3 linked regions of the Homo sapiens genome follow. The protein of the gene in region 3 purifies or fractionates together with the protein of the main gene of each other region. This does not show direct contact. Each region holds a gene or a part of one and is shown on either strand. Other genes may lie near its edges.

Region 1 (3,655 bases), on a different chromosome or scaffold from region 3:
TGTATTTAATACACAGATATTTACCATTGTGTTACAACTACCTACAGTCTTCAGTACAGTAACATGCTATACAGGTTTGTATTTGGGAGCAATAGGCTATACCATGTAGCCAAGTTGTATAGTAGGCCATACCATCTAGGTTTGCATGAGTACACACTGTAACATTCACACAATGACAAAATCACCTAACCATACATTTCTCAGAAAGAATCCGTGTAGTTAAGTGATGCATGATTGTAATAAGTAGAAGGTTTAAAACTTTGAAGAGCAGACATCAGTCAAATTATATTTTATAACTTATATTTATATAAATGTACATAGCCATTTATATTTTTCTCAAGACATTATGTCATAATCAAATATGACTTCCAATATGTTCTCAGCCTTTACTGGTTAAACTTTCCTCCTTGAACTGTTTCAAAGATTAGCGAGCTGGTCCCATCAACTCCTGACCCCTCATTTTAGGAAAGAAGGATACAAAGGGACCACCTAAGTTCAAGCTGGCCACTGCTCATCTCTCTCTCCATCTTATACTGAGATGATGGACAGTAATGACTTTCATTTGAAACTTTTCATTTTGGGAGCCCTGAGAGACAAACTTCATCTATTTTCTGACATAGGATGAAACAATTATAATGATGTAGTCCAAAGTATAAAGATACATGCTTTTATTTCCTTTCTTATAGTAGTCCAAATAAATAATTCCATGGAGTGGAAGGTCCCTGTTGAACCTCCCTTTCCTAGTAACAAGTGACCAACTCCACTGTTCGCCACTGCTCACCAATGAAGTCGCAGCTGCAATAAAATTGACTAAAAAACTGAGGGAGGATTAAGGATACAGAGTACCCAGTATATTCTCTCTCTGAATTCTTTCTCTCAATTGGGAAGAGATAACTGCCATATTTTTAAAGGTATTGAAAATCCACATTGGCCAAGAGCTTATTCTATTTTCAAGTAGAGATGTTGCAAAGATGCAAGATTCTCAAAATATAGTGAAAGGTTGAAAATTAAAAGACTTATGCTTTCATCATCTTTTCTTTATCATAACATGCATAAATGTTCTTATAGACTGATATGACAGGTCCTTCAGTACCATATGCTCACAGTGACAGTTTATCTAAAGACTAAGAAAGCTCTTCTATAAATCAAATGCTGATGTTCCCAGGCTGTTGAACCAGAATTGTTCAAGGGTCTCTGTCACTCAGTCACTGCAGGTTCTAGTTCAAAATTTTGGATTTTGAATTTTTCCATAGGTGAAAACATGCCATGCATAGTCACTATTGAAATAAAAATCACTTGCAAATAATTAGGTGATAAAAACTACAACTTAATAACAGCAATGACTTCTTGAGCTTTATTGTAAGTATGGACGTTTCTAAACTGAAAAATATTAAGCTTTCCAGTTTTATTATATTATGAATTTAACAAATTTTTCTTTAAACTAAGCCCACTTAATATAAAAATCCCCAAATTAAACACATTTTAAATTTTATAAACCTCCGTAAAATAATTTTGAATTAAAGGAGCAGAGGGGGCAAGTGCTGAAAAGTTCTCTTCTTTTGTCAGAAGCCACCATGGTGAGGTTGATGACAACAATGATGGTGGGATTAGTTAAAAACAGTCAGCTTTGGGGAGGAAGCATTTAATCACTGTTATTCTGTATATACACTGCTATGAGAAAAATCCTCTATCAGACTAATATGGTCAAAATTATGCCTGATACACAAAATATAGTTTTTAAATTTGGTTGGTACAAATGATTTCCTTAACTCAATTTGTATAGTGCCTCCTTTGTGTGAGACAATGTGTAGTTATAAACAATAAGAAAGAAATATAAGGGATAATATCGAATATTAGAGATAGTACAAATTCTAATTATGAGTTTGTATTCTCGATAAGCTGAAAGTTAGGGGAAGCTCCACATGTTGAAAACACTGTAAAACATGGGGTAGGGAGGGAAGGGGAGAAAGAAAGAGTTTTAAGTGTTCATATGGATTTGACCCAGCCATCCCATTACTGGATATATACCCAAAGGATTATAAATCATTCTACTATAAAGACGCATGCACACGTATGTTTATTGCAGCACTATTCACAATAGCAAAGACTTGGAACCAACCCAAATGCCCAGCAATGATAGACTGGATAAAGAAAATGTGGCACATATGCACTATGGAATACTATACAGCCATAAAAAGGATGAGTTCATGTCCTTTGCAGGGACATGGATGAAGCTGGAAACCATCATTCTCAGCAAACTAACACAGGAACAGAAAACCAAGCACTGCATATTCTCACTCTTAAGTGGGAGTTGAACAATGAGAACATATGGACACAGGGAGGGGTACATCATAAACCAGGGCCTGTCAGTGGGTTGGGGAGGCTAGGGAAGGGATAGCATTAGGAGAAATACCTAATGTAGATGATGGGTTGATGGGTGCAGCAAACCACCATGGCATGTGTATACCTATGTAAAAAACCTGCACATTCTACATATGTATCCCAGAACTTAAAGAATAATAAAAATAAATAAATATTTTTTAAAAATGGTGATGACATAGAGTTTTAGAGCCTATTTAAGTAAAACAGTGCTTTTTTGCATAAAATGACATTTCAAGAAATTTAGGAATAATCATTGGTGGGAAATGTTGATAGGTTCCATGATTCCAAAATTACAAAAAATAACAGGAAAATCTGGTAGGTAAAACTTAACAAATATTAAATTAACACATGAATTGATGACCTAATTTGTATTGGCCCAAATGTTAAAATTATAGCTGCCCAGTCACTTCAGAAAGAGGCTTATTCATTCCATAAATCACAAAATAGTCCACAGGTATTTTTATTTTTATTTTTTTTTGAGATGGCGTCTCACTCTGTTGCCCAGGCTGGAGTGCAGTGGTGCTATCTCGGCTCACTGCAAGCTCTACCTCCTGGGTTCACGCCATTCTCCTGCCTCAGCCTCCCGAGTAGCTGGGACTATAGGCGCCCACCACCACAACCAGCTAATTTTTTGTATTTTTAGTAGAGACGGGTTTTCACCGTGTTAGCCAGGATGGTCTCGATCTCCTGACCTCGTGATCTGCCCGCCTTGGCCTCCCAAAGTGCTGAGATTACAGGCCTGAGCCACCGCACCCGGCCAGTCCACAGGTATTCTGAGTTACATCATTGTATAGTGAAGAAGGTGGTCACATTTCACTGACTATATTGAAAACTGTAGAGTTCCGCTGCTGAAATATGCTTTTCATTCAGTGTCAGACTGGGAGAGCTGTGCACTGAGGCATTAATATCCGTGTGTGGACTGACTACCAGACAAGCATGATTTAATTGGAAGCGATATCACCATAGCATTTATGTAAATTGGCACAAATTCCAAAATCCTAGTAAACCTAAGAGAAAATCAAGTTGTGGTAAAGAAAGAAAATGCAATAAAAATTAAAACCAAGTATGCCTGTTGATGTGCATTCAGAGTCATGGGGAGAATCTGCTCTAAGATACTAATGAACTTGGAATGGCAATTAGACACATTTATTGGGAAAGAATATTTTTATTTTTAAAACCTCTTGCAAACTGTTCTCGTAACCTCTGATTCTAATGATTGCTTTCCTTGTGCCCTGTTTACAGTTGCTTCATGTTAACACTGCCTCAGGATATG
Region 2 (3,556 bases), on a different chromosome or scaffold from region 3:
TCCTTTACTCATATGAAATCACAAATAATTTCTATCCAATTTGGAAGTACACTTTGGTGTAGTTGTGACAGCTTCCTCAGGACTCAGCATAAATTCAAACAAATAATTGTCCTTAGAAGAGATGCTATAGAAGAGATAGAAATATATTCATATTCTGTAGCTTTTTTTTTTTTGAGATGGAGTTTTGCTCTTGTCACCCAAGCTGGAGTGCAGTGATGCAATCTCAGCTCACTGCAAACTTTGCCTCCTGGGTTCAAGGGATTCTCCTGCCTCAGCCTCCCGATAACTGGGACTACAGGCTACAGGCATGTGTCACTACTCCTGGTTAATTTTTTTTTTTTTTTTAAGACTGAGTCTTGCTCTGTCTTTCAGGCTGATGTACAATGGCTCCATCTCGGCTCACTACAACTTCTGTCCCCCAGGTTCAAGCGATTCTCCTGCCTCAGCCTCATGAGTAGCTGGGATTACAGGCATGTGCCAGCACACCCAGCAAATTTTTGTATTTTTAGTAGAGATGAGGTCTTACCATGTTGGCCAGGCTGGTCTCAAACTCCTGACCTCAGGTGATCCTTTGGCCTCAGCCTCCCTAACTGCTGGGATTACAGGCATGAGCCACTGCGTCCAGCCTAATTTTATATTTTTGGTAGAGATGGGGTTTCACCATATTGGCCAGGCTGGTCTCGAACTCATGACCTAAGGTGATCCATCCTCCTCAGCCTCTCAAAGTGCTGGGATTACAAGTGTGAGCCACTGGGCCTGGTGCTTTTTTTTTTTTTTTTTTTTTTTTTTTTGAGATAGGGTCTCACTCTGTCACCCAGGCTGAAATGCAGTAGTGTGATTTTGGCTCATTGCAGCCTTGACTTCCCAGGCTGAAGTGATCCTCCCACCTCAGCCTCCTGAGTAGCTGGGGCTACAGGCATGCACCACCATGCTGCGCTAATTTTTATATTTTTTGTAGTGGTGGGATTTCGCCATATCACCCTGGCTGGTCTGGAACCCCTGGGCTCAAGCGATCCACTCGCTTCAGCTTCTCAAAGTGCTGGGATTACAGGCATGAGCCACAGCGCCCAGGCTGTAGCTCTCTTAAGGAGGAACATATCTCATCTGAGACAAACCTGAAATGCCAAACCAAACTGAGTTAGCCCCTCTCTGTCTGTTGTATATATTGGAGTAATAACCTATTTGTCTTGATAAAGGGATTGCATGCTTGAATTGCAAAAACCTTTATTTCTTTTGGGTTGCCCAATGTGCAAGACTAAGAGTTATTTTGATAAATTTCTCACCAGGCTGACTGTCTCTCTGTGGGGTCGGGGGAGTTTTCAGGGTCTCACGTATTGCAGGGAAGGTTTGGTTGTGAGATCGAGAATAACAGAAGCAGCGGAGCATTCTGGAAATATTACTATGATGGAAAGGACTACATTGAATTCAACAAAGAAATCCCAGCCTGGGTCCCCTTCGACCCAGCAGCCCAGATAACCAAGCAGAAGTGGGAGGCAGAACCAGTCTACGTGCAGCGGGCCAAGGCTTACCTGGAGGAGGAGTGCCCTGCGACTCTGCGGAAATACCTGAAATACAGCAAAAATATCCTGGACCGGCAAGGTACTCACTGCTTCCTGCTCCCCAGTACTGAGCCCAGAATAAAAGACGATCTCAGGCTAGGAGCTCAGGCAACATCTTAGTCCGGTCTCATCTGTTCCTGGATGTCCCTCAGACCCCCAGCTTTCATCTTTTAGGATTTATTCCTTCCCTGGGATAATATAATTTGTGGTCCAAAAAGAACATCATCAAAATTTCAGGCAGAATGGGCCAGGAAGGCCATTCTTTCTTGATGAGTGTCCCCAAATCATCTCCAATTAACAGACAAGGAGCTTGAGGTTAGGGAGGTGAGGGTAACACTGTCTGTAAGAGGCAGAGCTGGGACTCAAATTCCAGATTTCAGATTCCAAATCCCATCGTTTTTTATCTCTACAATGATGCCTCCCATCTGGGTGGTGGAGAGAAGGGAGGCGTGTAAAATGTCAGCCCCAGAAGGACAAGAGCAAGCCAGTGTGAGCGGAATTGATGGCTGCAAGCTGAGACTTGGATTGGAGACGTAGTGAGACTCAGGATTGTGCAGTGCTGCAGGGAAGTGGTTGCTGGATAGAGGCATGGGCTGAACCAAGCAGCTGGACTGAGACTGGGGGACAGAACTCCAAAGCCCACTGAGATGTGGGAAAACATGGAGAAGCACACGGAGCATTCACAACTTATTGCCGTCAGAGTCAATACATGGGTGAGGTGGGGATTGGGCAAGAGGGAAAGCGTCAGCCTTCCCTGATATTCTGGAAAGTCTCCCGGGGCTGGGGGTGGGCAGGTACAGAGCTTCGAGCTCTGCTGATCGCTGACATCCAGGGGTGGGGGTAGGAAGAGACCTGGGCCGGGAGAAGTCCACCTCAAGCCTGCAGTGTCACACTCTATCCCTCCACAGATCCTCCCTCTGTGGTGGTCACCAGCCACCAGGCCCCAGGAGAAAAGAAGAAACTGAAGTGCCTGGCCTACGACTTCTACCCAGGGAAAATTGATGTGCACTGGACTCGGGCCGGCGAGGTGCAGGAGCCTGAGTTACGGGGAGATGTTCTTCACAATGGAAATGGCACTTACCAGTCCTGGGTGGTGGTGGCAGTGCCCCCGCAGGACACAGCCCCCTACTCCTGCCACGTGCAGCACAGCAGCCTGGCCCAGCCCCTCGTGGTGCCCTGGGAGGCCAGCTAGGAAGCAAGGGTTGGAGGCAATGTGGGATCTCAGACCCAGTAGCTGCCCTTCCTGCCTGATGTGGGAGCTGAACCACAGAAATCACAGTCAATGGATCCACAAGGCCTGAGGAGCAGTGTGGGGGGACAGACAGGAGGTGGATTTGGAGACCGAAGACTGGGATGCCTGTCTTGAGTAGACTTGGACCCAAAAAATCATCTCACCTTGAGCCCACCCCCACCCCATTGTCTAATCTGTAGAAGCTAATAAATAATCATCCCTCCTTGCCTAGCATAACAGAGAATCCTTTTTTTAACGGTGATGCGCTGTAGAAATGTGACTAGATTTTCTCATTGGTTCTGCCCTCAAGCACTGAATTCATCTGAAACTCTTGGTTTCCCCTGGAGGCCATGGTTCCTGGGCACCTTGACCTGGGCAATCCCAAGTGTGGCCTGAACCCCCTTTCCCTTGGGGATTGTTCAGGTGTCCCTAGACGCCTTGTGGTATTGTACCTAATACCCATGAAGGGAGAGGATGATATTACTTGCCAGTGTACACCCCCCTGTGATATTGTTCATAATGTCCAGAGTGAAGAAAGATGATATTACTCCCAATATCACAGAAGGTGTACACCCCCCCTTGATATTGTTCCTAATACCCAGTTGGGGAGGGGAGAATATCTCTCCCAATATACAAGGGGTGTTTAAACTCTCTGTGATATTGTTCCTAATATTCAGGGGGGACAAGGATGATATTACCCAAATATTGCAGGGGTTGTACACCCCCCCTTTGATATTGTTCCTAATATCCAGGGGTGGAGAGGATA
Region 3 (3,655 bases):
AGTTTCTCTCAGCTTAAAAAGAGAATTCTTATTTTCGTTGTTTTTGAGACAAGATCTCGCTTTGTCACCCAGGCTGGAATGCGGTGACGCAATCACCGCTCACTGCAGCCTCGATGTCTCAGGCTCAAGCGATTCTCCCACCTCAGTGGCTCAAGTAGCTGGGGCTACAGGTGCATGCCACCATGCCTGGCTAATTTTTGTATTTTTTGTAGAAACAGGGTTTCACGATGTTGCCCAGGCTGGTCTCAAACTCCTGGATTCAAGGGATCCACCCACCACAGCCTTCCCAAGTGCTGGGGTTACAGGCATGCGCCACCGCGCCCAAATTCTTAAAAGCCTCTCTCTCTCCCTTTTACTGCCTTTACAAATACTTTTTCCCCCAGTGGCTAAAATACATTTCTGTTACAACCACACAAGAAATTGGACTACTTTTTATTTGAGCAGAAAATGAAAATGGCCTCAAGTAGGGACGTATAGACAATCAGTTTACCTCATCAAAGACCTTAGACACGACATGCTTGTCCAGGACGGGAACATAGGTGGAGCTGTGCGGGACTGCTGCCACTGACAAGGCATCCATGAGGGTGAGTTTCTTGGCGACCAAGCCATAGGTCTTCAGCCAGTTTTCTGAAGACACATCTGAAGAACTAAGAACACAAGGAGGTGGTGTTTTAAAATTTACAACTTGATGGTTAACCAACAGAAGCATAACAGAACTGTCTTTGTCAAATTAAAGAACTCACTCGTGGTCATAAACCTGGCTTCCTTCTCGCGTCACCTTTTCTGACGATTTGTCATCCAGCCACTCCTCAGCCAGCAAGATGCTCATTTCTGTGGAAGGGGAAGTGGCAGTTGTATATTTTCCTCACATATGGGTTTTACATAAAATGCAAAGGGATCACGCTTGTCTCAGTCCAGCTGTGACTGAGAGCTAATAAATGGACCACATTTCAGAGAACATATCCTGATTTGTCAGAGCGGGCTCTCAGGCAAGATTCCTTTGCAATTTACACTACAGACCAATGCATGGGTAAATACGGCACTACCACTGTTTTGAGACAATGAGACATATTCATTCTTTCATTCAGAAAACACACCTCTAAAAAGTGTGCAATAAAAATACCATTAACCAATGATTGTTCAATATTGACCTTTTGGACTCCCCCAAATTATATGAGAGCCTTGATCAACATTTTAATTTCTGATAGATTGTTTAGTGGTTCTTCAGCTTTCTGTAGAAAACCAAAAAACCTGTTAGGTCCTGTTTAGTTGTAAGTTCAAATTTTCAAATTAATATTTGGGGTTTTACATATATCCTTATATAAATGTGTATTTATAAATGAAAAGGGATATTTGTTGAATGAGCAGCATTCAGAAGGAGGCGTGTTTGGGTGTGAGCTAGTTAACTAGCTAAGAAATCATATCCCAATCATCATTTGATAAGCCCTTTAAGGAATGTGCATGTAGACAACTTAGGAAATATGGCAGGTTAATTGAAAGGGAGCCACTGTGCCCGGCCAAAATCCCAGCACTTTGGGAGGCCAAGGCGGGTGGCTCACTTGAGGTCAGGAGTTTGAGACTAGCCTGACCAATATGGTGGAACCCTGTCTCTACTAAAAATACAAAAATTAGCTTGGCCTGTTGGCGGCTGCCTGTAATCCCAGCTACTCGGGAGGCTGAGGCAGGAGAATTACTTGAACCGTGGAGGCAGAGGTTGCAGTGAGCCGAGATCACGCCACTGCACTCCAGCCTAGGTAACAAAGTGAGACTCTACCTCAAAAAAAAAAAAAAAGTGAGGAAAAGATATCAGACAGATCAGCAATGAAGAAAACAGAGTTCTAAATTAAACTATGACTGTGTAGCCACAGGGGCACATTTGCTACTCAGCCACTTCCTACTCCCTAGGGGATTGTGTGTATATGTGTGTGTTTAACTGGGATTTTAAATGTATCAACCATTTGAAATAAAAGAAAAATGTTACAGGCATCAAACGTTTCAAAACTTATTACTTTAAGATTAATAATTTTATCAATAGTAATAAAAATTGAGTGGGAAAATCACATTTTCCTCATATGCAGTCCCCAAAAGGCTGACAATTTGGACCAGAGAGGGGCTCATCTGATAGCATCATCCATTGAAGAAAGGGAAGAAAAAAAATCAACTATGAAATATGACAGTTTCAAAATCAAACCATGGAGGGGCAGCAGCATGACCATAGTTATGTGAGCCACGTGTGTATTAAACACCCAGGCACCATAAGCACAAGGCCAGCTCTCAGAAAATCCAGGTCATAAAGCAGGCAGACCTGACTTACAAGGGATTCCTTTGAATAGGAAGCAATCTGGGCCCATTTAAAATATGATTTCCCCAACATATCTACACGCAGCTCTTTCTGGAACAGATACACTGTGGAAAGGGAGGCTGGTTGGCCACAGAGATGCTTTCTGGCTTGCCTTTGTCACTTAGAGCAGTCCTCCGGCTGCTGGCATTGGAGAGGCCATCCTTCCTTTCACTGCAAGCTGAGCTCCTGAGGGAGGACATCTGGCTTCTGAGCAGGCTGGTTTTGGTTGATTCTGTTGGTATCACAGAGGGAAGAGTTAAAGGAATTGGGGATGGAAGGAGATACTTCATTAGATATAACTATTTTATCAGCTCCTTAAAGTAAGAATGCAACCTTTGTTTCCCAACCCTCTGAGGATGGTGCTGCCACAAACTGAATGCTGCCAGGATGCCCTGCTCCCTTTATCTGAATTTCAGCTGGACCCCTCCTGGAGAGAAGTCAGCTTCCACACTCATTCAGGCTGCTGGCAGAACCCAGCTCCTTGCAATTGTAGGACTGAGGCCCCATTTCCTTGCTGACTGTAGCCCAGCGGCCTCTCTCAGCTGCTTAAGGCATCTGTATTACTTCTCACACGACTCTTCCATCTTCAAGACAGTAATAGCACATTGAATTCCTCTTGTGGTTCAAATCTGTCTGACTTTCTCTTCTGCCACCAGCTGGAAATAGCCCCTGCTTTTCACAGTTCCCACAGTTACACTGGACTCACCTAGATAACTCTGTCTAGGTCAGCATAACCTGGTCATGAGAGTGACGTGTCATCATATTCAAAGATTGCAGGGTTCAGGGCAGGACATCTTTGGTAAGCCATTCTAGAAATTCTGCCCACCACAATTGCTGTCCAGATCTTTGCTTATGTTATTTTCTACCCTGTGATGTGTCCCTTCTACAGGCAAATGACAACTTAGCAAATATTGACCTTGAATCTGTGTGCTTTAGAGGACAATGAGCCTGTGCCAAGTCATCTTGATTACTTTTTATATTTGATAACATAAACCACACTAATTGTAATGTAGTCTGTACTTCATAATTTGGAGGCTTTAGAAGTACCTAGTTCCAAGGCTTTATGTCAGCATTCGTGAATGAAATGTGTCTGTGTTTTCACTGAGAGGACTTACCCTCTCCTACAAGAAATTAGATAGTTAGAGTGAAGATTAGCTAGTAATCTGCAAATGGGTAGCTTTCACACAGAAAATTAACACCAGTGGTCTCCATGCATAGAGAAGGAGTGTGCTATACGGTAATCATTGTTTTTCTAGGCAACAAAAGGGTAAGCCCTGCCTTGATTGTCTCTGTACCCAGGAACTAAGAAAGCTA

Evidence for each region.
Region 1: the proteins of VWA3B (region 3) and SERPINB7 purify together in Homo sapiens (affinity purification with mass spectrometry; one large-scale study listed by BioGRID and IntAct). This does not show direct contact.
Region 2: the proteins of VWA3B (region 3) and AZGP1 purify together in Homo sapiens (affinity purification with mass spectrometry; one large-scale study listed by BioGRID and IntAct). This does not show direct contact.

What each region holds. Positions count from the first base shown.
Region 1 is NC_000018.10:63,788,769-63,792,423, forward strand, and holds part of SERPINB7 (serpin B7), read left to right. Parts: intron 1-3,624; coding exon 3,625-3,655. UniProt on the Homo sapiens protein: Might function as an inhibitor of Lys-specific proteases. Might influence the maturation of megakaryocytes via its action as a serpin.
Region 2 is NC_000007.14:99,966,198-99,969,753, reverse strand, and holds the end of AZGP1 (zinc-alpha-2-glycoprotein precursor), read left to right. Parts: intron 1-1,323; coding exon 1,324-1,599; intron 1,600-2,467; coding exon 2,468-2,751; 3' UTR 2,752-3,024; downstream 3,025-3,556. UniProt on the Homo sapiens protein: Stimulates lipid degradation in adipocytes and causes the extensive fat losses associated with some advanced cancers. May bind polyunsaturated fatty acids.
Region 3 is NC_000002.12:98,233,566-98,237,220, reverse strand, and holds part of VWA3B (von Willebrand factor A domain-containing protein 3B), read right to left. Parts: intron 2,574-3,655; coding exon 2,454-2,573; intron 832-2,453; coding exon 744-831; intron 648-743; coding exon 491-647; exon of another isoform or gene 417-490; intron 1-416.